Homo sapiens: one gene and its partners. The protein of the gene in region 1 purifies or fractionates together with the protein of each later gene. This does not show direct contact. Each region holds a gene or a part of one and is shown in the gene's direction. Other genes may lie near its edges.

Region 1 (3,500 bases):
TTTTTTAAAATTGGGCTCTCTGTTACATAGTTTTTAAAAATTGATACGTCATAGCTGTACATTGTCTGCTGTTGTGGTGCCTGTATCCCCCACCACCTATATATATTTATAATAGTTGTACATATTTTAGGGGTACATGTGATATTTGATACCTTTATACAGCGTGTAATGATCAAATCAGGGTAATTAGGGTATCTGTCACCTCAAACGTTTATCTTTGTGTTGAGAAGATTACAATTCTTCTAGCTATTTTGAAATATAGAGTAAATCATTGTTAAATATAATTTCCTTATTGTACTCTCGAATACTAGAACTTATCGACCTGTATTTTTATACCCCTTAACCAACTTCTCCTCATCCCCTTGTAGTTTTTTTTTAAATTAACAGGCTTTTATTTTTTAGAGCAGTTTTAGGTTTCCAGAAAAAGTAAGCAGAAAGAATAGAGTTCCCTCTCCCCAGTTCAGATTCCCCTATGAATAACATCTTGTTTTGGAATGATACATTTGTAACAATTGAACCAGCATTGATACATTATTATTAACGCAAGTCCTTAGTTTACATTAGGGTTTACTCTTTGTATTCTACAGTTTTATGGTTTTTCCCAAATACATGTCAAGTATCTACTGTTAAAGTATCATACAGAATGGTTTTACTGGCCTAACATCCTTTGTGCTCCACCTATTCATCCTTCCTCCCCCCACTTCCCCAACCCCAGGTAACCACTGATCTTTTTAATCGTTTTTTTACTCTGCGTTTTTCACTTAACATTATATCACAAAAATTTCCCAGGGCATATTAAGTAGTCTCCAAAAACCATAGTTTTGAAATTACGGTTTTTGGAGAATACTTGGGATGCTGAGGCGGGAAGATTGCATGAGTCCAAGAGTTCAAGGTTATTGTGAGGTATTGATTGCTCCACTGTACTCCAGCCTGGGTGGCAGAGCAAGACCCTGTCTCAAAAAAACAAACAAAAAAGATTACCAATTTGGTAAACAAATGATAGTGTTTCAGAGTTTTCTTTTGTATCTGTCAGATTAATTTGGGGAAATACTGTTCAGATCCTTTGCCTTTTTCTGTTGAGTCATTAGTCTTATTATTAATATATTGTATATCTTTTCTTACAGATCCTTTTATCCTGCCACACCAGCAGGTTGATAAAGGAGCCATCAAATTTGTACTCAGTGGAGCAAATATCATGTGTCCAGGCTTAACTTCTCCTGGAGCTAAGCTTTACCCTGCTGCAGTAGATACCATTGTTGTATCCTTCCCAGGCTAAAACTGCTGAAAAATGTATTCATTGTGCTCTTATCATTACTGCGAAAGGTGTACCATCCAAGAGAACATTAGATGTACTTTTTTGAAGGTTACTGTTACTCTTATCTCATGCCTTTCTGGTTACATTTGAAGTTGTACAAAGTAATTTTATTTGTTGCTACTAAATTATCTCATCTTAGGTCGTTTCTTAGAAGTTAAATGAGAACAAGTTACAGAAGAGTCTCAGCTGCATTTCAGCCCAGTCAGGGCCTACTGTTATCAGACTTAGGACACAATAGGGAATTCTTGATTACTAGGGGAAAGGATATAGATGATATAATTGGATCAGCTTTTTGGATATCAACTTGCCACTGTAATGTTCATTTTGACTTACTGACATACGTTGGAGTGAAAGCTCTCAAAAGGGAAAAGAATTTAGGCACCAGGTATAGGTATCTCTTACCAAGCAACAATTTTGTGTTAGGAGTGAATAGTGGGAAATATTGGCAACCTCCAACTTTTATTTTGAAAATTAATTATTTGAAAAGTTGAGTTTGGGGGCCTCAGAGCACGTTTTCTCAAAGAGAAATGTCAGAGTCCCAGATGGTCCTTAAAGATCGATTCAACTCATGACATAGCTGAATAATTCTGCATTATTTCCATTTCTACCATGCTGTTTCAGCTATTTTCTGGATTAAATAGATTTTTGTGACTATTCTGGACAGGAGAACATCTTCTCCTTTATCATAGCTAAAGTAGCCATTTGCCTCGGGTATAGAAAAGGAATGGTACTTGGTGGGAATAGGGAAACTACTTTTAGAGTGTGTTTATCTTATTTTAGTTTTTGAGATGGAGTCTCGCTCTGTCGTCCAAGCTGGAGTGCAGTGGCACGATCTTGTCTCACTGCAACATCTGCCTCCTGGGTTCAAGCAATTCTCCTGCCTCAGCCCCTCGAGTAGCTGAGGTTACAGGCACCCACTACCACGCCCGGCTCATTTTTGTATTTTTAGTAGAGACAGGGTTTCACCATGTTGGTCAGGCTAGTCTCAAACTCCTGACCTCAGGTGATCCACCCGCTTTGGCCTCCCAAAGTGCTGGGATTACAGGTGTGAGCCACCACACCTGGCCAGGGGTGTGTTTAAGAAGAATAAGAAAAAAAAATGATATTCTCTGTTGGGGCAGTTATAGCGAAGAGGTAGTATAAGTAGTATGTTTATATTCTAGGAACAGCTTATGTTGACATGCTTTTTGCCTAATAGGTGCTCACATATTTGGAACACTGAGTGAATTGAAAATCAAGGGAGAAAAGTGAGGACGGGTTTTTTGTTGTTGTTGTTTGTTTTTAATATTTATTAAGTGTTGGTAAATTTATAGTTCTGGAGTTAACCTTAAATGGAAAATTTCCTTAGTACCTAGTCTTTACTTTTAAAAATAATTTTTATTTTGAAACAGTTACAGATTTAGAGAAAGTTGTTAAAGAAAATGGTACAGAGAGGTCTTGTGTACCCTGAATCTTGACTTTTTAAAATATGTACTGCAGTGTTTAACATTCCAGAAACTTCATATGTTAACCAAGACCACTCTGGTTTTTCTAGAAAGGTTGAAACTGTTATATCAGGCTCTTAAAGATAGACTGGGAATTTACCTATTATTTTAAAACAGCCTTTACATAAAACCACCATTCAGGCCGGGTGTGGTGGCTCATGCCTGTAATCCCAGCACTTTAGGAGGCTGAGGCGGGCAGATCACCTGAGGTCAGGAGTTCGAGACAAGCCTGGCCAACATGACGAAACCCTGTCTGTACTAAAAATACAAAAATTAGCTGGGTGGGGTGGCATGCGCCTGTAATCCCATCTACTAGGGAGGTTGAGGCAGGAGAATTGCTTGAACTCAGGAGGCAGAAGTTGCAGTGAGCTGAGATCATGCCACTGCACTCCAGCCGGGTGACAAAGCAAGACTCCATCTCAAAAAAACAAACGGCCGGCTATGGTGGCTCACGCCTATAATGCCACCACTTTGGGAGGCTGAGGCAGGCGGATCATGAGGTCAGGAGTTCAAGACCAGCCTGGCCAACATGGTGAAATCCCATCTCTACTAAAAATACAAAAATTAGCTGGGTGTGGTGGCACACGCCTGTAGCACCAGCTACTCGGGAGGCTGAGGCAGGAGAATTGCTTGAACCCGGGAGGCAGAGGTTGCAATGAGCCAAGACTGCGCCATTGCACTCCAGCCTGGGCAACAGAGTG
Region 2 (3,500 bases), on another chromosome or scaffold:
GGTAACATGGCAAAACCCTGTCTCCACTAAAAATACAAAAAATTAGCTGGGCGTAGTGGTGTGTGTCTGTGGTCCCAGCTACCTGGGAGGCTGAGGTAGGACGATCACCTGAGTCCAAAAGGTTAAGCCTGCAGTGAGCTGTGATTGTGCCACTGCACTCCAGCCTGGATGACAGAGGAGACCCTATCTAATAATAATAATAATATTAATAATAATAAATTTTAAAAGAACAACTAGCAGATTTGATCACACAAAAATTAAAGCTTTCTGCATGTCAAAGCAAAAGGGAGGCACAGAGTGGAAGAAAAATAATATTTTTGAAGAGGGAAGAGATTCATATCCAGAATACATAAAGAGCTACAAATCTTTTTGTTTATAGGGAAAAAAAATAGGCAAAAACTGGGGCAATTTATAAGGGGTAAAAATACAAAAGGCCAGTAATCAAATGAAAAATATTCATCCTCAGAGAAATACAAAATCACTAATCAGATTTGTAAAAAATCAAAAAGACTGCTAAGATCCAGTGTTTTGAGGGAGTGAGTAAATGAGTACTCCTTCGTCTTACCAGGAGATTCTAAAACCGTAGAGTCTTGGAAAAACATAAAGATTCCACCAAAAAACTATTATAACTGAAAAACAACTTCAGTAACATTGCAGGATACAAAATAAATATACAAAAATCAGTAGCATTTCTATATGCCAACAGTGAATGATCTGGAAAAGAAATCAGGAAAGTAATCCCATTTACAATAGCTACAAATGAAATACCTAAGAATAAACTTCACCAAAGAAGTGAAAGATTTCTGCAATGAAAACTGTAAAACACTGATGCAAGAATTTGAAGAGGACATGAAAAAATGGAAAGATATTCCATGCTCATGAATTGGAAAAATCAGTATTGTCAAAATGTCCTTATTGCCCAAAGCAATCTACAGATCCAGTGCAGTCCCTATCAGAATACTAGTGACATTCTTCACAGAAATAGAAAAACACAGTCCTGAAATTTATATGGAACCACAAAAGACCCATAATAGCCAAAGCCATCCTGAGCAAAAAACAAAGCTGGAGGAATCACATTACCTGACTTCAAATTATACTGTAGAGCTATAGTAACCAAAACTAGCATAAAAACAGACACATAGACCAATGGAACAGAATAGAGAACTCAGAAATAAATTTGTACATCTACAGAGAATTTATTTTTAACAGAGGTGCCAAGAACATACATTGGGAAAAGGACAATCTCTTCAATAAGTGCTGCTGGGAAAACTAGATATCCATATGCAGAAGAATAAAACTAGACTCCTATCTCTCACCATGTACAAAAATCAAATCAAAATAGATTAAAGACTTAAATCTAAATCCAAGACCTGAAACTACTAAAAGAAAACATTGGGGAAACTCTCCAAGACATTAGTCTGGACAAATTTTGTTTGTTTGTTTGTTTGTTTTGAGACAGGGTCTCACTCTGCACCCAGACTGGAATGCAGTGGCATGATCTCGGCTCACTGCAACCTCCATCTCCTGGGTTCAAGCGATTCTCCTGCCTCAGCCTCCCAAGTAGCTGGGATTACAGGCACGCCCCACCATGCTGGCTAATTTTTGTATTTTTGGTAAAGACGGGGTTTCACCATGTTGGCCAGGCTGGTCTCCAATTCCTGACCTCAGGTGATCCGCCCACCTCAGCCTCCCAAGGTGCTGGGATCGCAGGTGTGAGCCACTGCACCTAGCCATGTTAGAAATATGTAAAGGTGATGGGAGGAGGGAGCGGGGAAGGAGCCAGCAGGCATAGAAGGGGCAGGAAAACCTAACAGAACTGTTGTTTTAGTGCCATTTTCCCTTCTGGATGATCCGTTATACTCATTCAACCTCACAGCTCAATTCATTTCCATAAAGGCTTCTTGAGGCCAGATGCAGTGACTCACACCAGTAATCCCAACACTTTGGGAGGCCAAGGTGGGAGGATCACTTGAAGCCAAATACATATATGTATATTTCTTTCTTTTTTAGTCTTTCTAGTCTTGCTCTGTCACCCAGGCTGGAGTGCAGTGGCGTGATCCCGGCTCACTGCAACCTCTGCCTCCCAGATTGAAGGAATTCTCCTACCTCAGCCTCCCGAGTAGCTGGGATTACAGGCATGTGCCACCAGGCCTGGCTAATTTTTTTTGTATTTTTAATAGAGACAGGGTTTCACCATGTTGGCCAAATGGATCTCAAACTCCTGGCCTCAAGTGATTCGACCACCTCGGCCTCCCCAAGTGCTGGGATTACAGGCGTGAGCCACAATGCCTAGCCATCTCTGGCTAATTTTTTTATTTTTTGGTAGAGACAGGGTTTCACTGTGTTGGACAGGCTGGTCTTGAACTCCTGGCCTCAAGTGATCTGCCCTCCTCAGCCTCCCAAAGTGTGGGGATTACAGGTGTGAGCCACTGCACCTGACCTTGACAAAGATTGCTTGAGTAAATACTCCAAAAGCACAGGCAACCAAAGCAAAAATGGACAAATGGGATCACATCAAGTTAAAAAGCTCTTGCAGGCTGGGCACAGTGGCTCACGCCTGTAATCCCAGCACTTTGGGAGGCCAAGGCCAGCAGATCACGAGGTAAGGAGTTCAAGAACAGCCTGGCCAACATGGCAAAACCCCATCTCTACCAACAATACAAAAATTAGTGAGGTGTAGTGGTGGGTGCCTGTAATCTCAGCTACTTGGGAGGCTGAGGCAGAAGAATAGCTTGAACCCAGGAGGCAGAGGTTGCAGTGAGCCAAGATTGTGCCACTGCACTCTAGCCTGGGCGACAGAGCGAGACTCTGTCTCCAAAAGAAAACAAGCTCTTGCAGAGCAAAGGAAACAACAAAGTGAAGAGACAACTCAGAATGGGAGAAAATATTTGCAAACTGCCCATCTGAAATACTTGTACATAGCACCAAGTTCTATATCCAAGCTTTGTTTTTGTAATAAAAAATAAGAAACAATCTAATATCCATTAACGAGGAATAGTTATGTAAACTGTGATAATCTGTCCTGTGGATTGCTGCAGTTTTTTAGTAGAGATGGGGTTTCACCATGTTGGCCAGGCTGGTGTCAAACTCCTGACCTCAGGTGATCCACCCACCTGGTATTACACGTGTGAGCCACCACACCTGGCCAGTGTTAGGGTCATGGTGATGTCCTTGTTGGATAAGAATACCCTCATCCCAGAAAGTTGAAGAATTGTGGTGATATGCTAGGGAAGCATCTTGGCTTCCACTGGTCATCCTTTCTTCATTGTCATCCTGACCTGTTTCTCTCAGTTTGAACTGAGACATAGATCAAGCCTTTTACTAGGAATCTGTCCGTTACCAGCTTCTTGAAGCTTATGGATGTATATGCTGCCTGATCATGTATGTCAGCTTTTCCCTTATTTACCTTTGCTGATTAGCCAGGGATGGTCTGACATTTGAATTTGTATCTAGTAAAACTGTCACATTTGTCTTCTCAGAGGAACTGAGATTTAACTGTG
Region 3 (3,500 bases), on another chromosome or scaffold:
GTGGACTTTTACATATAAAATCATTAAGAGGTGGGGCATGTGTCCATGCATGCTCAATAGATAAATAGGTAGGTGGATGACAGATATCAGGGGATAAGAATCACTTTCTAGGTTGCAGGGGTGGTGAATGGAACCAGATTCTCTAGGTAATTTGCAGATGATAAAGTCTGTGTAAACACAGTAATAGGAGAAGAGGTGTTTTAAATATACTCAGCCACTTATGAGAAAATTATAACAGCTAAGAGAAAAGGATGTTTTGTTTCTTGGGTTTTAATAAATGTTTAATGAATGGAGTGGCAGGCAATAGGGATACAGAGTCAGATAAAATACATTTCTGTCTTCAAAAAATTTGTAACTGGGAGTTGATGAAGTGTTTGGTTTTGTTTAGGTGATTAGTTTCATTTAGATGATTCAGATGCTAAGAAAGAAAACCATTATCACTTACTGAAAGTAGAAAGAAATACCCAAGGTTCTGGTCTTTGTGTTTTGCCTCACCTGCTGTCCATATCCCAGTGTAGTGAGTTCACAGGGATTTCATTATTGATTCTGAACCTTTTAAGTACATAACCTTTAGAAATGCTCTTACTGCTTAAAGTACTGTGAACATATCAATAAAACATTGTTTCTATGAAATAAGGAAATGGCTTTCTTTATCACGTTTACCCATTGTTTTTTAATCTATTTTAATTTTAAAATTTTTCCCCAGATCTCTTACATGATCTCAGCATGGGCCAGAATGTGCAAAATCCTTGGAAAAGAATTTCAGCAATACCTTCCAGTGGTTATGGGGCCTTTAATGAAGACGGCTTCAATTAAGCCCGAAGTAGCCCTTTTAGATAGTAGGTGTCTTTAGAAGGAGCTATCGGTTATAATAGTTCTCTCTTTGTTATTATTTTTCATATGCATTTGTTTTCTTCTCCGTTAATAGCCCAAGACATGGAGAATATGAGTGATGATGATGGTTGGGAATTTGTGAACCTTGGAGATCAGCAAAGCTTTGGTATTAAAACTGCAGGACTAGAAGAAAAATCAACTGCTTGCCAGATGTTGGTAAGAGAGCACTGTTTTTACTAAACTTTTATTTTACATCTTATATACATTTCATATGAGTGCTTTTAATAGCTGCTAAAGAAATTACTTTGGAGAGCCAGTAATATGTTCCTTAAAAAGTAAAGTTTTCTTTCCATTTTAAAGAAATCGTATGGATAAACCTTTCATTATCAGTGCTGTTTTAAATAGCAAAAAACAACAAATAGCCCAAATTCCTGTTAGTGGGAAGATGAATTACTGTGCCTTGGAGTAATATACAGCCATTACAAAAAGTTTATAAGCTACATGAGGGAAGGATTTTTGTTGGTTTTGTTCTTAGTCTATAGTAGGTGGCCATGGAATGTTTTTTAAACAAATGAACAGAAGTGTGTTCATGCTATTTAATGTGAAACAAAACTTGTATGATTTCAATTGTGTAAAAAAACAGATATGGCAGGAAAATCAAAATGTTCGGTTATTATCCCTTATGGTGTTTGTGGTGTGCATATGCATGTTTAGTTCCTAGTTTTCTTTTTGTTTTCTTTATGAGCATGCGTTTTAAAGTGAAGGATAATCCTTTTTTTTTTTTTTTTTTGAGGTGGAGTCTCTCTTTTTCACCCAGGCTGGAGTGCAGTGGCACGATCTCGACTCACTGCAACCTCCACCTCTGGCGTTCAGTTGATTCTCCTGCCTCAGCCTCCCGAGTAGCTGGGATTACAGGCGCCTGCCACCACAGCTGGCTACTTTTTGTATTTTTAGTAGAGATGAGGTTTCACCATTTTGGCCAGGCTGGTTTCCAACTCCTGACCTCAGGTGATCCGCCTGCCATGACCTGGGATTACAGGCATGAGCCACTGCACCTGGCCAATACTTACTTTTAAAGTTAGATTTTAGAAATTAATGTATTTCTTATTGTCATCTTCAATACTTAGTATCTATAAATTATAAACACTTTGGATTTTTGTGGGTTTTTTCTCTCAACTGGAAAGCAAATACAAATAATAACATCTTTAAACAGAATTAATCTTTAGATGTAGTAGAAGAGAATGAAACAATTGGGTTTTTGGGGTTTTTTTTGTTTGTTTGTTTGTTTGTTTTGCTTTTTGAAACAGAGTCTTACTCTGTCGCTCAGGCTGGAGTACAGTGGCTTGATCTCAGCTCACTGCAGCCTCCGTCTCCTGGGTTCAAGTGATTCTCCTGCCTTAACCTCCCGAGTAGCTAGGATTACAGGTGCACGCCACCATGCCTGGCTAATTTTTTGTATCTTTAGTAGAGACGGGTTTTCACCATGTTGGCCAGGCTGGTCTTGAACTCCTGACCTCGTGATCCGTCTAACTCTGTCAGCCAGGCTGGAGTATAGTGGTGCCATCCCGGCTCACTGCCACCTCCACCTCCTGGGTTCAAGCGATTCTCCTGCCTCAGCCTCCCAAGTACCTGGCATTACAGGTGCCCGCCACCATGCCTGGCTAATTTTTGTATTTTTAGTAGAGACGGGGTTTCACTGTGTTGGCCAGGCTGGTCTCGAACTCCTGACCTCGTGATCTACCAGCCTCAGCCTCCCAAAGTGCTGGGATTACAAGCATGAGCCACCGTGCCCAGCCATGATTTTTTAAAAATACAAAATAACAGAAGCGTTTTCTACAGATTTACAAAGTAAATGCTTCAATTAACTGATGGTTTCAGGGTTTTTTGTATCTTTTAGAATGATTTTTCCTCAATTAAGTGATACATTTTGTTTGATGTATTGCTGAAACTTGCTGAATGGAATACGAATGATTCCAGCCTTTGAAGGGACAATATATACGACAATAATTTCCTTTTTTTTTTTCTTTTTGTCACTCACCAATACTACAATCATTTCATGACCCTTCTTTTAAGACTCTTTTTAGTTGGAAGACTAATTTGACAGTTCTACATGCAACTTTAAATGTAGTTCTAGTCAAAATACAACCTCCTGTGGTCCTTATGATTTTGCTGTTTGTTAATATTAATGCTTGAAGACTAACATGAATCTTTATTTCCTCCCAATACTTTGGTTACAGGTTTGCTATGCTAAGGAGTTAAAGGAAGGCTTTGTGGAGTACACCGAACAGGTTGTCAAACTGATGGTCCCTTTACTGAAATTTTATTTCCACGATGATATCCTACAACTTCTGAATACAAAACATGTCTAGATTTAGTAAACTTGTAGTTTCTTGGAGTATTAGACAGTGTTGACTGAAGTAGACTTCACCATGATTGTTTGTATTTGCACTAAGTGTACTCTTAGGTGATAAACTCGGTTCTCTGCATGTGCCTTTGTTTCCACTTGTGCCAAAACATGAAAAAGAAAACGTGACCTATCCTATGTTTGTCAGCTTTCTGTGGCCCACTTAAGGATTTAAGGATAATTAGCAAATGATTACAATTATATATAGTTGCTACTTTCCCCAAATATCTTTTGGTAAACGTTAAGAAAATAAGACTTTTAT
Region 4 (3,500 bases), on another chromosome or scaffold:
GAAGCAAAGGCAAATGTTTGAGCAATTAGTTTTCAGGGATTTTTTTCATCAGCCTTTTCTAGTTAATTAAGTATAAGTATAAGAGACCTATCTGCTATTTACTGAGTGCCCTGGAGAAATTGCAAAAAGTGTCTCTGGAAAATGCTGACTATTGCCTCTGGGGCATCCTGATATGGCTGCAGTGGGAGGCCGGCAGAAGTAACAACCCTCCCATCGTGCCTCAGTGTATTTGTGTGTGTATGCGCGTGCATGCAAATGCATACACACGTACATGTATATAATTATTAAACAGAATTTTCTTGAGGAAAAACATTTTATTAATATGACCTACACTGCATTGTAGTTTTCTATCAATTTCACTGGATTAAAAGATTGAGGGAATAAGATTGGCAGACTACCCCCTAGTGGCTAACTTGAAGAAAGTTGTGCACAAATTGTAAAGAACTACTGCATTAAGGTAACAGTAATTGTTTATTTCCATTATATTTATTAAATATACTTATTAAATCTATGTCCCAGGCACTGGATCAGGTGCTTGGAATAAAAATCCAGTAAACAGAAAAAAAAATTAATCCAGTCTTTCAGTCTTAGCAATGGCTTTGCCTTCTCCTTCAAAGGAAAATTGAAATGATGAGGGAGTAGTTGTCTGTACGTACGATGAATGGCCACATTTTCAAATTTACTTGTATCTGCATAGTTCCTTTCTTTCTTCCTTTTTTTTTTTTTTTTTTTTGAGACAGAGTTTCACTTTTGTTGCCTAGGCTGGAGTGCAATGCACGATCTGGGCTCACTGCAACCTTTGCCTCCTGGGTTCAAGCGATTCTCCTGCCTCAGCCTCCCAAGTAGCTGGGATTACAGGCATGCATCACCACACCTGGCTAATTTTGTATTTTTAGTAGAGATGAGGCTTGACCACGTTGGTGAGGCTGGTCTTGAACTCCTGACCTCAGGTGATCCACCCGCCTCGGCCTCCCACAGTGCTGGGATTACAGACAGACATGAGCCACCGCGCCCAGCCTGCATGGTTCCTTTCTTGTTTCCTTTTCTTAGAGTAGATGAAGTGCCACTTCTATCTGAGCTAATCCTGCTACTTATACTTTGAATCATATCTTCTCCTCCCTACTCAAATAATTCTTATCCTGTAACACATCTTCAACTTCTTTCCCTCTCTGTACTACCTACTTTTTTTCAGGGATAAACTTGGTGGTGGTTTATGCAGTCTTCCTTTCTCCCACCTTCTTCTCAGTCGGCTCCAGTGGAAACCTACTTTGTTATTCACCAAAGCTATTCTGACAAAGGCACCAGCGATACCCAGGTCACTAAACTCAGAGGATGATTTTTTACTCCTCATTTTAATTAATCTCTTCACTGCTTGGTCATAGTTGACCACTCTTTTTTAAAACACCTTCCTCTTATCTTGGCTGACACTATAAATGCCTGTTATTTCTCCTTTTCTGGCTACTCTATATTTCCTTTGCTAGACTGACCCTTTTATCCAGTCCTTAAAGGTTGAAGCTCCTTTATAGTCATAGTGGCTGTGTGGTTTCTCCCCTTTGGCAACCTTGTCCATTCTACTGGCTTCAGTTATCATTTGCATGGTGGTCATCAAGTTAAATTTCCATCTCAGAGTTGTGTTCTGAACTTCAGACTTACATATCCAACTGTTAACTGGGCATCTCTATTTGAATGTTTCCCAGTCAACACAAACTCACCACTTCCAAAACTAAACTCTTCTTTGTTCATCTCTTCACTCCACATCTGCTCAGTAAACAGTGCCACTAAGCACCTACTTGCTCAGATGAGAAACTTGGGCATCATCTTTGACTCCCCGTCACCCACTATCCCACATCTAATCTGTCACCAAAACCCATTAGTGGTATCATCTAAATATCTTGTTATACGCTTCTTCATCCCCACTGCCATGACTTTTAGGATTATTTTAGTAGCCATCTGTTGAGCACTTACTTTGTACCAGGCACTATGCTTAGACCATTGATCTTTTAATGTAGTAATTTAGCCCTATAATAAGGGAAGCAACTTACCCAAAGTCATCTAGCTTTGTCCTAAAGCCTGGGCTTTTTAAAAAAATTAAACATTTCATTTTGAGGTAATTCTACATGCACATCTAGTTGTAAGAAATAGTAAACAAAGATTTATGTAGCCATTATCCAGTTTTCCTTAATGGTAACATCTTGCAAAATTATAGTACAGTATCACAACAGTATATTGACAATGATACAGTCAAGATACAGAGCATTTCCATCATGATAGGATTTTTTATGTTGCCCTTTTATAATCGTATTCACTACCATCCCACCCCTACCACATCCTTAATCTGTGACAACTACTAATCTGTTCTCTGATATTTCATGTGTGTTATTTAAATGGATTCATGCAGTACTTAAGATTTTGAACTTTTTTTTATTCAGCATAATTCTCTGGAGATTCATCCTCATTTCATGCATCAATAGTTATTGTTTTTTATTGCTAAGTAGTATTTCATGGTATGGATGTACCACACAGTCTGTTTATTTAACCATTCACCCGTTAGTTCTCATTTACATTTCCCTTATGGCTAATGATGTTGAACATCTTTTCATATGATTATTTGCCATCTGTATATCCTCTTTGGTCAAATGTCTTCAAGAATTTGAGTATTTTATATATAGGTTTTTTTTTTTTGAGATGGAGTTTTGCTCTTGTTACCCAGGCTGGAGTGCAATGGCATGATCTCGGCTCCCCAGGTTCAAGTGATTCTCTTTGTTGTTGTTGTTGTTGTTGTTGTTGTTTTTAGACAGATTCTCACTCTGTCACCCAGGCTGGAGTGCGGTGGCACAGTCTTGGCTCACTGCAACCTCTGCCTCCCAGGTTCAAGCGATTCTCCTGCCTCAGCCTCCTGAGTAGCTGGGACTACAGGTGTGCGCCACCATGCCCAGCTCATTTTTGTATTTTTAGTAGAGACAGGGTTTCACCATGTTGGCCAGGATGGTCTCAATCTCTTGACCTCGTGATCCGCCCACCTTGGCCTCCCAAAGTGCTGGGATTACAGGCGTGAGCCACTGCGCCGGCTTTCCTGGTTTTTTTTTTTCTACACATTTTACAGGTTTATGTTTTTCCTTTAAGTCCGTGATCCACTGTGAGTTAATTTTCATGTAAGATGTGAGACTTAGATTGAGGTTCTTTTGTTGTTGTCATTGTTGTTGACAAAGCCATCCTACTTCCATTGAATTGCTTTTCCGTCTTTGTCAAAAATCAGTTGGACGTATTTGTGTGGGTCTGTTTCTGTTGTCTCTGTTTTGGTCCATTTTTCCATGTGTCTGTCCCTCTGCAAATACCATAGAATCTTGCCAACTCTAGCTATATTGTAAGTCTTGAAATCTGGTAGCCTGATTCCTCTACTTTATTCTTATTTTTCAAAGTGTTTTAGCTATTCTATTATCTTTACCTTTCAATACAAATTTTAGAATAATCTTGTTTATGCAAAAAAAAGAAAGTCTTGC
Region 5 (3,500 bases), on another chromosome or scaffold:
TGAGGTGGAGAAAGCCAGGAAAGCCTGTCTGTCCAGATTCTTCTTGGCTTCTCTAAAATTCTTTCTCCACCCCCTAAGGATCTCCTGACCTACTAATGGGCAAGGAGATGAGAGGATTTCTTTACGTCCAGCTCCTAGACAGAAAGCCAGTGGAAAGTTAGAATCATAAGTTTAAATCTTATGACTGGCTTTGGGGAAAAAGAGTTTTAGTTTCTGTAAACTGCCCTGGGGAAGAGAAATTCTCATTTCTGTGACTTCAGGGAAGAATGAAGGGTGAGAGGCAAGAGGGCAGGAGAAAGCTATATATATATATTTTTTTAGAGGGTTTTACTCTGTCACCCAGGCTGGAGTGCAGTGGCACAATCATGGCTAATTGCAGCCTCGATCTCCCAGGCTGAGGCAATCCTTCCACCTCAGCCTCCTGAGTATCTGGGACTACAGCTGCACACCAGCATGCCCAACTAATTTTTGTATTTTTCATAGAGATGGTTTCACCATGTTGTCTGTCTGGTCTTGAACTCTAGGGCTTAAGCAATTTTGCCTGCCTTGGCCTCCCAAAGTGCTGGGATTACAAGTGTGATCCACCATGCCTGGACAAGGTCTTGGTTCTGGCTGGGCGCAGTGGCTCACCCCTGTAATCCCAGCACTTTGGGAGGCTGAGGCTGCTGGATCATCTGAGGTCAGGAGTTTGAGCCCAGCCTGGCCAACATGGTGCAACTCCATCTCTGCTAAAAATACAAAAAAGAATCAGCCGGGTGTGGTGGCGTGCACCTGTAATCCCAGCTACTCAGGAGGCTGAGGCAGGAGAATTGCTTGAACCCAGGAGGTGGAGGTTGCAGTGAGCCGAGATTCCACCACTACACTCCAGCCTGGATGACAGAGAGAAACACTGTCTCAAAAAAAAAAAAAAAGATCTTGGTTCTGAGGCTGCTTCTGAGCATATTTTTGGGTGTTGTTATCTGCAATAATTTTATCCCAGGAAGTTAACCATTACCTTGTCATGAGGTAAACTGATGGATTTTAATTAGTGAGTATACAGCAGTGAGCATACATAGAATTATTTCCCGAGACTACAGCCATTATGTATAAATTCTTCAGTTCAAAGGAGTAGCAAGCTTTTTAATTACCCCAAATGTTTAATTCTAGAAATAAATCCGCCTTCTCTAAGTTTTAAGTGACTGTCTTCATTTGGAGGAAATGGATTTTATTTCCTGAACCCCAGGAAAAGAAATTTTGAATTTGAAAACACTTATGTCACCAGTTTGTGGATGTTGGAACTGTGTGTGTCATTGGTCAAACACCAGTCATTTGCAAATGGCTCCCCTTAACAGGAGAATCTACCCAGGAAATTCCGTATCTTACTGGCAGAACTTGCTGCTTTAAAGTGTTTATTATAGTCTCAGCTACTTGGAGGATTACTTAATAAGCCCAGGAGTTCTAGGCTGCCATGGACTGTAATCTTGCCTGTGAATAATCACTGTACTCCAGGCTGGGCAACATAGTGAGATCCCATCTCAAAAACTATATATGTTGATTGTAGAAAATTCGAAAATATGGACAACTATAAAGAAGGTAGTAAAAATGGATTGTAATTCTTAACATGCTAGTATATTTTTCTTCAAGCATTTTTATAAGCATGTACTTTATTTCATAGCTTACACAGAAGATAGATGCAGTTTTGCTTCCTGCTTTATTTATTTTTATGTATTTATTTATTTTTTGAGACGGAGTTTTGCTGTTGTTGCCCAGGTTGAAATGCAGTGGCACAATCTTGGCTCACTGCAACCTCCGCCTCCCGGGTTCAAGCGATTCTCCTGCCTCAGCCTCCCAAGTAGCTGGGATTATAGGCATGCCCCACCATGCCTGGCTAATTTTGTATTTTTAGTAGAGGCGGGGTTTCACCATGTTGGTCAGGCTGGTCTGGAACTCCCTTACCTCAGGTGATCCATTCGCCTTGGCCTCCCAAAGTGCTGGGATTACAGGTGTGAGCCACCCCACCTGGCCCCTGCTTTATTTTTTCTTATATATTGTGGGCATTTTTACACACCATTACAACTTATAAAGTCTGCCAGAGTGTTCGTGGTTACGACTTTCTAGGGGTCTGCTTTGTGATATGGATTAATATTTACTGTCCTTCACTTGACCCTTTGTCACATTGTGTGATTATTTTTTCTAGTTTACTTTTTTTTCCCATGTAAAACTTTTTATTTAACATTTCTGTAATCAGAACTCTCAATCTTTTGTTTAAAACTTGGAAAGCATTCCTCACATATTTAATTTTGCTACATGCATGATTTTTTAAATGCTAAACCTTTGATTCATAAGGAATATATTTTTGTTTGGGTTTAACCCGTTATTCCAATAGCAACACCACTTTATTAAACAGTCTTTTATGTCTTCACTCACTTGATATGCCATCTTCATGTGTTGTTGTTGTTGTTTTTTGAGATGGAGTCTTGCTCTGTCGCCCAGGCTGGAGTGCAGTGGCATGATCTCGGCTCACTGCGACCTCCAACTCTTGGGTTCAAGTGATTCTCCTGCCTCAGCCTCCCCAGTAGCTGGGATTACAGGTGCCCGCCATCACGCTCGGCTAATTTTTTGTATTTTTTTAGTAGAGCTGGGGTTTCATCATGTTGGCCAGGCTGGTCTCAAACTCCCCTCCTCAGGTGATCCACCTGCCTCAGCCTTCCAAAGTGCTGGGTTTACAGCCATGAGCCACCGTGCCCGGCCAAGGATATTTTTAATGCTTTTTGTTACATACTGCCAAATTCTCAGTTGTATGTCTTAGTAATATTTAATGAGTATGGCTTATGATTCAGTTTCTAAATGCTCTGAAAATTATAAAACCAGTGCTGTAGTAGTTACCAATTATCCCTGAACATACACAACAGTTAGGAAATAAATTAAATAAACTTTTTTTCGGAAGTAAATAGAATTTTACTTAAGAAATAAAATATAGTGAAATACTTTAAAAAATCAGAATTTTCACGTTGAATTCAGGCTCAAAATCTCTTGAAATGAAAACAGTAGATGCTTTGAATAGTGAAAATTACAATTCAGCCACACCAGTAGTACCATTCTGTTTATCTGTTTTTCAGAGATGTCTCTGAGTTGACGGGATTTCCTGAAATGTTGGGGGGACGTGTGAAAACTTTGCATCCTGCAGTCCATGCTGGTAAGTGGTTGGTATCTTTAATGTAAAAACAGTCAGTGGTTTCCAGGAATATTTTAGTTGATAGCGTCCTAAAATAAAGGAAGAAAAAGGCTCAAGAGAAATTTACATATAAAGTTAATGTTATGAAGTTGCTGCCAGATTTCATAATACGTTAGAACTGGTTTAAAATCCAGCTTGTCTTACTACTTGATGAATTCAGATTGTTTTCCTCTGCTTGCTATTAGTCCTGACCTGATACCTAATTTAGAGTCTGGTGTTTCCTGCTCAAGTTGCTGAAGATATTTAGATTTCATCGTATGAAAATACTTTTAAAATAGTTCAAACT
Region 6 (4,095 bases), on another chromosome or scaffold:
TCAACCCACAAAAATGTTTTCAAACCTCAGTTTTGAGAGGCCTCTCTCAAACTGCGTGTTTTAATGAAAACTCATTTAAAAGCATTGATTGCATCTGACCATCTCATAGTCTTGGTCAGGTATTTTTTGAAGAATTACACATTGCTTGGCATTTGACCAATGCTAAGTGGGCCTACTGACATCACCAGCAATCTAGAAATTAGAATTATTTGATTCCATAGTTATGTTTGTAACTAAGAGATTGTTATTCTTTTATTTCAAAGCTACCCTAATGTCCTGCATGTCTCCAGTTTATCTGATGGAGCTGAACTAATCTGAGTATATTATGAACACAAGCAAGTAAGTTATTTTAAAAAATGAACCTACTTGTACTAAAAATTTACAGGTAGAAGGGTTGTCTACTAACCATATTACCTAGAACAGTGTGGATCTTTAGAAAGTTAAATTAAATGATGGTAAAAAATCACCTCTTACCAGGTGCAGCAAACACAAAATACAGTAAACAAACAAACATATCTTTGTGCTGTAATTTGTTACCAAAATATTCTTTGTGGGATTGTGGGATTTCCACTGCTTTTTTTTCTTCTCTCTCTCTCTCTCTCTCTCTCTGTGTGTGTGTGTGTGTGTGTGTGTGTGTGTGTGTGTGTGTGTGGTATGTTCTCCAGTCTCCAGAGATGTAGATTAGAATTTTAAATTAAAATGTTCAGATAACTAGTTACAATCAAATTTATCCCCAAGAGTGGAAGGAAAGTGCAATGGAGAAATTGTTTTGTAAATTAAAGACATTACTGCACAAGCCTAACATGATGTTACTGGGGATTTTAATGTTTTTACCTGCATTCAGATTAAAAGTCATCAGTTTTCCCTGTCATCAACAATTTATTTATTCATCCATTCTATTTTTATATTTTTATGGATTGATATACCCAACACTATACTAATTAACCCAATTTACAAGATAATCTATAATCTTATTTAGGTTAGAAGGGTTTTTTGGCAAATGTTCACTCTAGAAAACTGAGTTGTAAGAATATGGGTGATCTCAAATTTGTTTCTGTGTGTGTAAAAGGAAAGGCTTCATATCTAAAATGACTTTACCTCAGTATACTAAATTGTTTGAGGGTAATGAATGAGAAGAACACAACTGTAAAAGGGCCAAGGACAGAGGGATGGGCAAATGAAGGAAAGGCAGAGAGGGAGACCAAGAGCTGAGGGGGAAAATTCTGTGGAGGGGTGTGGGAAAGGGGTGGAGCTGGCACCCTTGCCTTAAAAGCTGAGTGATAGCCCAAGGGATACAAAAGACCGCTTGAGCCGGGTAGGGAAAGCAGCCTAAAGCCCGGGACAGGCACACAGGCCCAGGTGTGTAGGCCACAGCAGCTGCAGTCCTGAAAGGCTGCAACGTCCCGACCTCCAGGAGAGACCAGGCCCAGGATGCCTCGCCTGTTTTTTTTCCACCTGCTAGGAGTCTGTTTACTACTGAACCAATTTTCCAGAGCAGTCGCGGACTCATGGATGGAGGAAGTTATTAAATTATGCGGCCGCGAATTAGTTCGCGCGCAGATTGCCATTTGCGGCATGAGCACCTGGAGCAAAAGGTCTCTGAGCCAGGAAGATGCTCCTCAGACACCTAGACCAGTGGCAGGTGAGAGCTCCCGCCCCCTCCCGGCCTTCCCGCGCTTCCCATTGGTTACTCTGGGGCGGCCGCCCAATTGGAACGGCGGCCTGCACGTCCGACTCGAGATCTCATTGGCTGCCACCGCTCAGCCCCTACTCAGCCGTGGCTGGTCCCTAAAGTTTGGGCTTTTCCTTTGCCAGGTGATTTTATTCAAACAGTCTCACTGGGAATCTCACCGGACGGAGGGAAAGCACTGAGAACAGGAAGCTGCTTCACCCGAGAGTTCCTTGGTGCCCTTTCCGTAAGGCAGTCAGAGCGACGGGGTGGAAAGGGAGGGGAAGCCTCAGAGGAGGTGACGCCGCCCGGAGACCCGCAGGAGGCCGGGCGCACTCCTGCACCCCACAGGAAAGCCAGGCGGCCAGACAGCGGGCGTGCTGGTGGGGGCACCTGAACAGGGCTTCTCGGATAGAGAGGAGAGGGGACAAACACTGAGGCGGCGCGCTAGTTATCAAGCCTGTTTGCGCGCCTGTAGGACGGGGCAACACTCTGAGGTCTCTGTGAGGGTCCCGTGATGGGAAGACAGGAAGGGCCTTACACTTAATGACTCTCCTAGTCCAGAAGTTGGGCTGTGGCCTTTGCCATTGGAAACGTTCTTTAAAATAAACAAACAGAAAATCCCAAAGGAAAGAGTCTGACCTCCCGCTTCTTTGATCTGGGTATTGAAGTTCATTTGTGAGGCAGGGGATGGAAGAGAAAGGAAAGGCTTGAATGCCTTTAGGAGAAACTCAAGAGGACCAGAGACAAGGAAAGCAGGCCGTTCAGACCATCATAGCTGAAGACCCTACTGATGCTTTCAAGCATTTGGAAGCTGCAGTGGGTTTGCTTTAAAGGCAAGCTCTTAGAGTTGAGTACAGCTCAATCTGAAATGGCTTTTAAAAATATTTTAGTATTTATAAAGTAGCAGTGGAAACTCATGGAGGTATATACTAGTCTAAGAAGTGTAACGGGTCATATTAAATTCAGAGAAAGTAACCGCAGTTGCAAATACTAAGTGTTTTGTATTAGTATGACATGTAATTTATGATAAACCGCAACTAAATTTTATAGGCTATATGCATATACTATATATAAATGACTCTAACAGAAATACATTTACTTCTCTTTTATGAGATTTAAAGTATGCTTCTAAAGTTATTTACTTTTCTACATTGTTAGAGTTTGATTTATTTAATGGCAGTTTTTACATGACTTTTGTATAACATTAGTACAAAAATACCACAACGTCTAGGAATTTAGTGATAAAAAGTAGAGAAGACCGGATTGCATTGCATTTGCTTTATTATTCCACATTTTCTGACTATAAAAGTAGTAATGCTCATATTAAAGACAAATGTACATTAATGCAGCGTGAAAAATGAGAAGCACTCGTAGATATTAAGGACTTTGAAAAGTATATGTGAATTTTATGAGAAAATGAAATTATATTAAACAAGTAAGTGGAAAGAAATGTTAACATTTGGATAGGTATATGTATATATCTTTTGCATTTTCACTCACCATTATACTTTGAGCAGTTTCTCACATTGTTATTATCCCAAAACACAATTTGAAATTCCTGTGTAGTATTTTTTGTCATAAATCTGCCACATACACTTAAGGATTCTTTGGTGGATATTTAGTTTATTTCTAAATTGTTGCTGAAAATACTTCATTAAGCACATTTGTATATAGATATGGCTACATTTTTATTTCCTTTGAAGAGACATGAGATTACAAAGTATTTTTAAAGAATTTTCTTTATTGATGTGCAGTATAATTTAACTGAAAGTAACCTCAGAAAATATTGCCTGCAGGTGGAGATTAAGACAAATGTTTACCATTACTAGGTAGGAATCGTTTTGGAAGTACATGTCAGTAATTTGTGATTAATTTGAGTTTTCAGACTTCTACTGTTAGGTAGTTGCTATTTGCTTCCACATTATTACATTGTTAGCCATCCATTTCATCCTACAATATGTGCTAAAATCATATTCACTGCATCCCTTTTAAAAATAAGATACCCTTTAAACCAGAAGAGGCCTATTTTAGTGAGATTTACATCCAAAATAATAAGTGAATAAGGGTATTTGTATGAATTCAGACAGAATATTTTCTTTGAGCCTAGGTTCCATAGCTAAAGGTGTTATGGATTATGAAATATTTCAAAACAGGTTTAAAAATATAATTTTAATAAAAGTATAAAATACACAGCCTATGAACAAACCTAATACAAACTATAACTGTTTTGGCTGACTCATTTAACTGGCTTTAAGTATATAGAAAATTACCATCAGCTTCTTTCAGTATTTAATAAGGCCCCAACTACAGAAAGTTTAGGTTGGATCAAAGAGAGGTTTTTATGATGAAATTGAATTAAACTTAGGATGTCTTACTGAGGGGAAATGCCAAAACCTCTCATTTAACCAAAAACGATATAAATT
Region 7 (3,500 bases), on another chromosome or scaffold:
GCCTTTTTTCACAAAGAAATAGTTTGTATCAGTTCACTAGAGTCCTTAAGAGTTTATAAGTCTTGATCAATTAAACCAATTGGCTGCATTCCTGATTTTGCAGCTTAGTATTGAATATTGATGAATCAATTCCTCACCCTTTTCCAAACACAGCTGTTAAAGATGCAACAGGTGGCCGGGCATGGTGGCTCACACTTGTAATCCCAGCACTTTGGGAGGCCGAGGTGGGTGGATCATTTGAGGTCAGGAGTTTGAGACCAGCCTGGCCAACATGGTGAAACTCTGTCTCTACTAAAAATACAAAAATAAATAAATAAATAAATAAATAAATGCGCAGGGCGAAAAGCAACAAGTTCTCTCATCAGCTCAGTGTCTTAGTTTCTGCCACCCAAACTGGACCTCAACAAAATCACATACCTTGACAAAAGATGGACATTTGGGTCTTCAGTCGGTGTTGAAACTACACATAGTAAGTCTGAGAAGTCCTCATTTGCCACACTCTGAGGCCCTTCCTGAGATGTGGTTGTTCTTTGGCTGCATCTCTTTTCAAGAGTTGGGCAATGATAGTAGCTGGTGCTTACTGAGCCCTGGGGACTTGCCCAGCCCTGTGTTAAGTGTTTTCTCCACCCGACATCTTCTAAGGGTTGTCCTAGTGCATTCATTAAACTACTGAGGTCAAGGAAAGCGTTAACTAGACAAGGCTTCTTTCTGCCCTATGATATTGGTAGAAATGGTAGGGCATGCCTAATCTCCTTATGTTATTATCCTCTTGAGAAACAAACATTTGTCAGAGTCCTTTCATGTGTTTTATTTTCACAGTGCATAGACTTGGGTTGGCAGCAGGATATGGTGGAGAGAGCGAGTCTTCTGAGTTAAATCCTGGCATTCTTGCAGCCTCACAGAGGGACCTTGACCAGATCACATAGTATCTCTTTGTTTCCTCATCTGGGGAAGGGGGATGGTTAACACTGACCTCCCTCCCACACCCAGGTGAACATGAATGGCAGTTGGTGAGGTTGGATCTGTGCCCGAGTTTCTCCACTCACCTTGTCTTCTTGCAGTTTAATGTGTGGCATGTGCCTTTTTGCTCTCCAGGAGAAGGAGAAAGCACATGAAGGAGCAAGACCCATGAGAGCCATCTTCCTGGCCGATGGCAATGTCTTCACCACTGGGTTCAGCCGCATGAGCGAGCGGCAGCTGGCTCTCTGGAATCCGGTACGCCCTCCCCAGGCTTTCCACTTGCTTTCACTTGAGCTTTCTCTCTGTTCTGAGCAGGTCTTCCAGTGAGTAAGTAGATTATGGGATTCTTAGTGTAGTTTTCTAAACGCCTGATTGTCTTAGATTGGATGTGAAGTTCTTATCCTCGTTGGAGACTTACTGGTAAATGTATTTCAAAGACATACTTTTGATACTCCTGAAGAGGCTGTTGACTATATATTTTTTATTTTTTTAATTTTTTTTAATTTTAATTTTATTGGTCATTTTTGGGTGTTTCTTGCAGAGGGGGATTTGGCAGGGTCATAGGACAATAGTGGAGGGAAGGTCAGCAGTTAAACAAGTGAACAAAGGTCTCTGGTTTTCCTAGGGAGAGGACCCTGCGGCCTTCCGCAGTGTTTGTGTCCCTGGGTACTTGAGATTAGGGAGCGGTGATGACTCTTAACGAGCATGCTGCCTTCAAGCATCTGTTCAACAAAGCACATCTTGCACCGCCCTTAATCCATTTAACCCTGAGTGGACACAGCACATGTTTCAGAGAGCACAGGGTTGGGGGTAAGGTCATAGATCAACAACATCCCAAGGCAGAAGAATTTTTCTTAGTACACAGCAAAATGAAGTCTCCCATGTCTACTTCCTTCTACACAGACACAGCAACAATCTGATTTCTCTATCCTTTCCCCACCTTTTCCCCTTTTCTATTCCACAAAACCGCCATCGTCATCATGGCCCGTTCTCAATGAGCTGTTGGGTACACCTCCCAGACAGGATGGTGGCCGGGCAGAGGGGCTCCTCAATTCCCAGAAGGGGCGGCAGGGCAGAGGCGCCCCCCACCTCCCGGATGGGGTGGTGGCCGGGTGGAGGCTGACCCCCCACCTCCCTCCCGGATGGGGCTGCTGGCCGGGCGGGGGCTGCCCCCCCACCTCCCTCCCGGACGGGGCGGCTGGCCGGGTGGGGGCTGACCCCCCACCTCCCTCCCGGACGGGGCGGCTGGCCGGGCGGGGGCTGAGCCCCCACCTCCCTCCCGGACGGGGTGGCTGCCGGGCAGAGACGCTCCTCACTTCCCAGACGGGGTGGCTGCCGGGCGGAGGGGCTCCTCACTTCTCAGACGGGGCGGCTGCCGGGCGGAGGGGCTCCTCACTTCTCAGACGGGGCGGCTGCCGGGTGGAGGGGCTCCTCACTTCTCAGACGGGGCGGCTGCCGGGCAGAGGGGCTCCTCACTTCTCAGACGGGTCGGCCAGGCAGAGACGCTCCTAACCTCCCAGACGGGGTCCCGGCCGGGCAGAGGCGCTCCTCACATCCCAGACGGGGCGGCGGAGCAGAGGCGCTCCCCACATCTCAGACGATGGGCGGCCGGGCAGAGACGCTCCTCACTTCCTAGACGGGATGGCGGCCGGGAAGAGGCGCTCCTCACTTCCCAGACTGGGCAGCCGGGCAGAGGGGCTCCTCACATCCCAGACGATGGGCGGCCAGGCAGAGATGCCCCTCACCTCCCAGACAGGGTGGTGGCCGGGCAGAGGCTGCAATCTGGGCACTTTGGGAGGCCAAGGCAGGCGGCTGGGAGGTGGAGGTTGTAGCTAGCCGAGATCACACCACTGCACTCCAGCCCGGGCAACATTGAGCACTGAGTGAACGAGACTCCGTTTGCAATCCCGGCACCTCGGGAGGCCGAGGCTGGCGGATTACTCGTGGTCAGGAGCTGGAGACCAGCCCCGCCAACACAGCGAAACCCCGTCTCCACCAAAAAAATACGAAAACCAGTCAGGCGTGGCGGTGCGCGCTTGCAATCGCAGGCACTCAGCAGGCTGAGGCAGGAGAATCAGGCAGGGAGGTTGCAGTGAGTCGAGATGGCAGCGTCCAGCTTCGGCTCGGCATCAGAGGGAGAGCGTGGAAAGAGAGGGAGAGGGAGACCGTGGGGAGAGGGAGAGGGGGAGGGGGAGGGGGAAGGGGAGAGGGAGGGGACTATATTTTTTAAAAAGAATGAAGAATCTAGTGTTTTGGATTTGGAAAATAAGTTCATATTTCATAAATAATATGATCAGTTGTCTAAATCAAAATAGTCATGCTTGGGAAAATGTTCATAATTAGCTTAAGTGGGGAAAAATACAACATACATTCTATCATCTCAATCTCTGTGTACATGTGTCGGAAGGAAATAGATCAAAATGATAATAGCTTCTGTCACCCACTGGGCTGTAGGATTTTGATGGAATGATTTTTATGTTCTTTTTTATATCTTTCAACTTTTTAAAAGCACACATATTTTATAATTAAAGAAGTACTTT

The links.
Region 2: the proteins of MCTS1 (region 1) and PLPBP fractionate together in Homo sapiens (co-fractionation; one large-scale study listed by BioGRID). This does not show direct contact.
Region 3: the proteins of MCTS1 (region 1) and IPO5 fractionate together in Homo sapiens (co-fractionation; one large-scale study listed by BioGRID). This does not show direct contact.
Region 4: the proteins of MCTS1 (region 1) and GAB2 purify together in Homo sapiens (co-immunoprecipitation; one large-scale study listed by IntAct). This does not show direct contact.
Region 5: the proteins of MCTS1 (region 1) and ATIC fractionate together in Homo sapiens (co-fractionation; one large-scale study listed by BioGRID). This does not show direct contact.
Region 6: the proteins of MCTS1 (region 1) and RLN2 purify together in Homo sapiens (affinity purification with mass spectrometry; one large-scale study listed by BioGRID and IntAct). This does not show direct contact.
Region 7: the proteins of MCTS1 (region 1) and CORO1C fractionate together in Homo sapiens (co-fractionation; one large-scale study listed by BioGRID). This does not show direct contact.

The regions. Positions count from the first base shown.
Region 1 is NC_000023.11:120,607,101-120,610,600, forward strand, and holds part of MCTS1 (malignant T-cell-amplified sequence 1), read left to right. Parts: intron 1-1,124; coding exon 1,125-1,258; intron 1,259-3,500. UniProt on the Homo sapiens protein: Translation regulator forming a complex with DENR to promote translation reinitiation.
Region 2 is NC_000008.11:37,769,145-37,772,644, forward strand, and holds part of PLPBP (pyridoxal phosphate homeostasis protein), read left to right. Parts: intron 1-3,500. UniProt on the Homo sapiens protein: Pyridoxal 5'-phosphate (PLP)-binding protein, which may be involved in intracellular homeostatic regulation of pyridoxal 5'-phosphate (PLP), the active form of vitamin B6.
Region 3 is NC_000013.11:98,009,175-98,012,674, forward strand, and holds part of IPO5 (importin-5), read left to right. Parts: intron 1-706; coding exon 707-839; intron 840-928; coding exon 929-1,050; intron 1,051-3,071; coding exon 3,072-3,168; intron 3,169-3,500. UniProt on the Homo sapiens protein: Functions in nuclear protein import as nuclear transport receptor. Serves as receptor for nuclear localization signals (NLS) in cargo substrates.
Region 4 is NC_000011.10:78,411,321-78,414,820, reverse strand, and holds part of GAB2 (GRB2-associated-binding protein 2), read left to right. Parts: intron 1-3,500. UniProt on the Homo sapiens protein: Adapter protein which acts downstream of several membrane receptors including cytokine, antigen, hormone, cell matrix and growth factor receptors to regulate multiple signaling pathways.
Region 5 is NC_000002.12:215,315,059-215,318,558, forward strand, and holds part of ATIC (bifunctional purine biosynthesis protein ATIC), read left to right. Parts: intron 1-3,098; coding exon 3,099-3,175; intron 3,176-3,500. UniProt on the Homo sapiens protein: Bifunctional enzyme that catalyzes the last two steps of purine biosynthesis.
Region 6 is NC_000009.12:5,301,917-5,306,011, reverse strand, and holds the start of RLN2 (prorelaxin H2 isoform 1 preproprotein), read left to right. Parts: upstream 1-1,295; 5' UTR 1,296-1,431; coding exon 1,432-1,642; intron 1,643-1,746; exon of another isoform or gene 1,747-1,815; coding exon of another isoform or gene 1,816-1,916; intron 1,917-4,095.
Region 7 is NC_000012.12:108,655,019-108,658,518, reverse strand, and holds part of CORO1C (coronin-1C), read left to right. Parts: intron 1-1,095; coding exon 1,096-1,215; intron 1,216-3,500. UniProt on the Homo sapiens protein: Plays a role in directed cell migration by regulating the activation and subcellular location of RAC1. Increases the presence of activated RAC1 at the leading edge of migrating cells.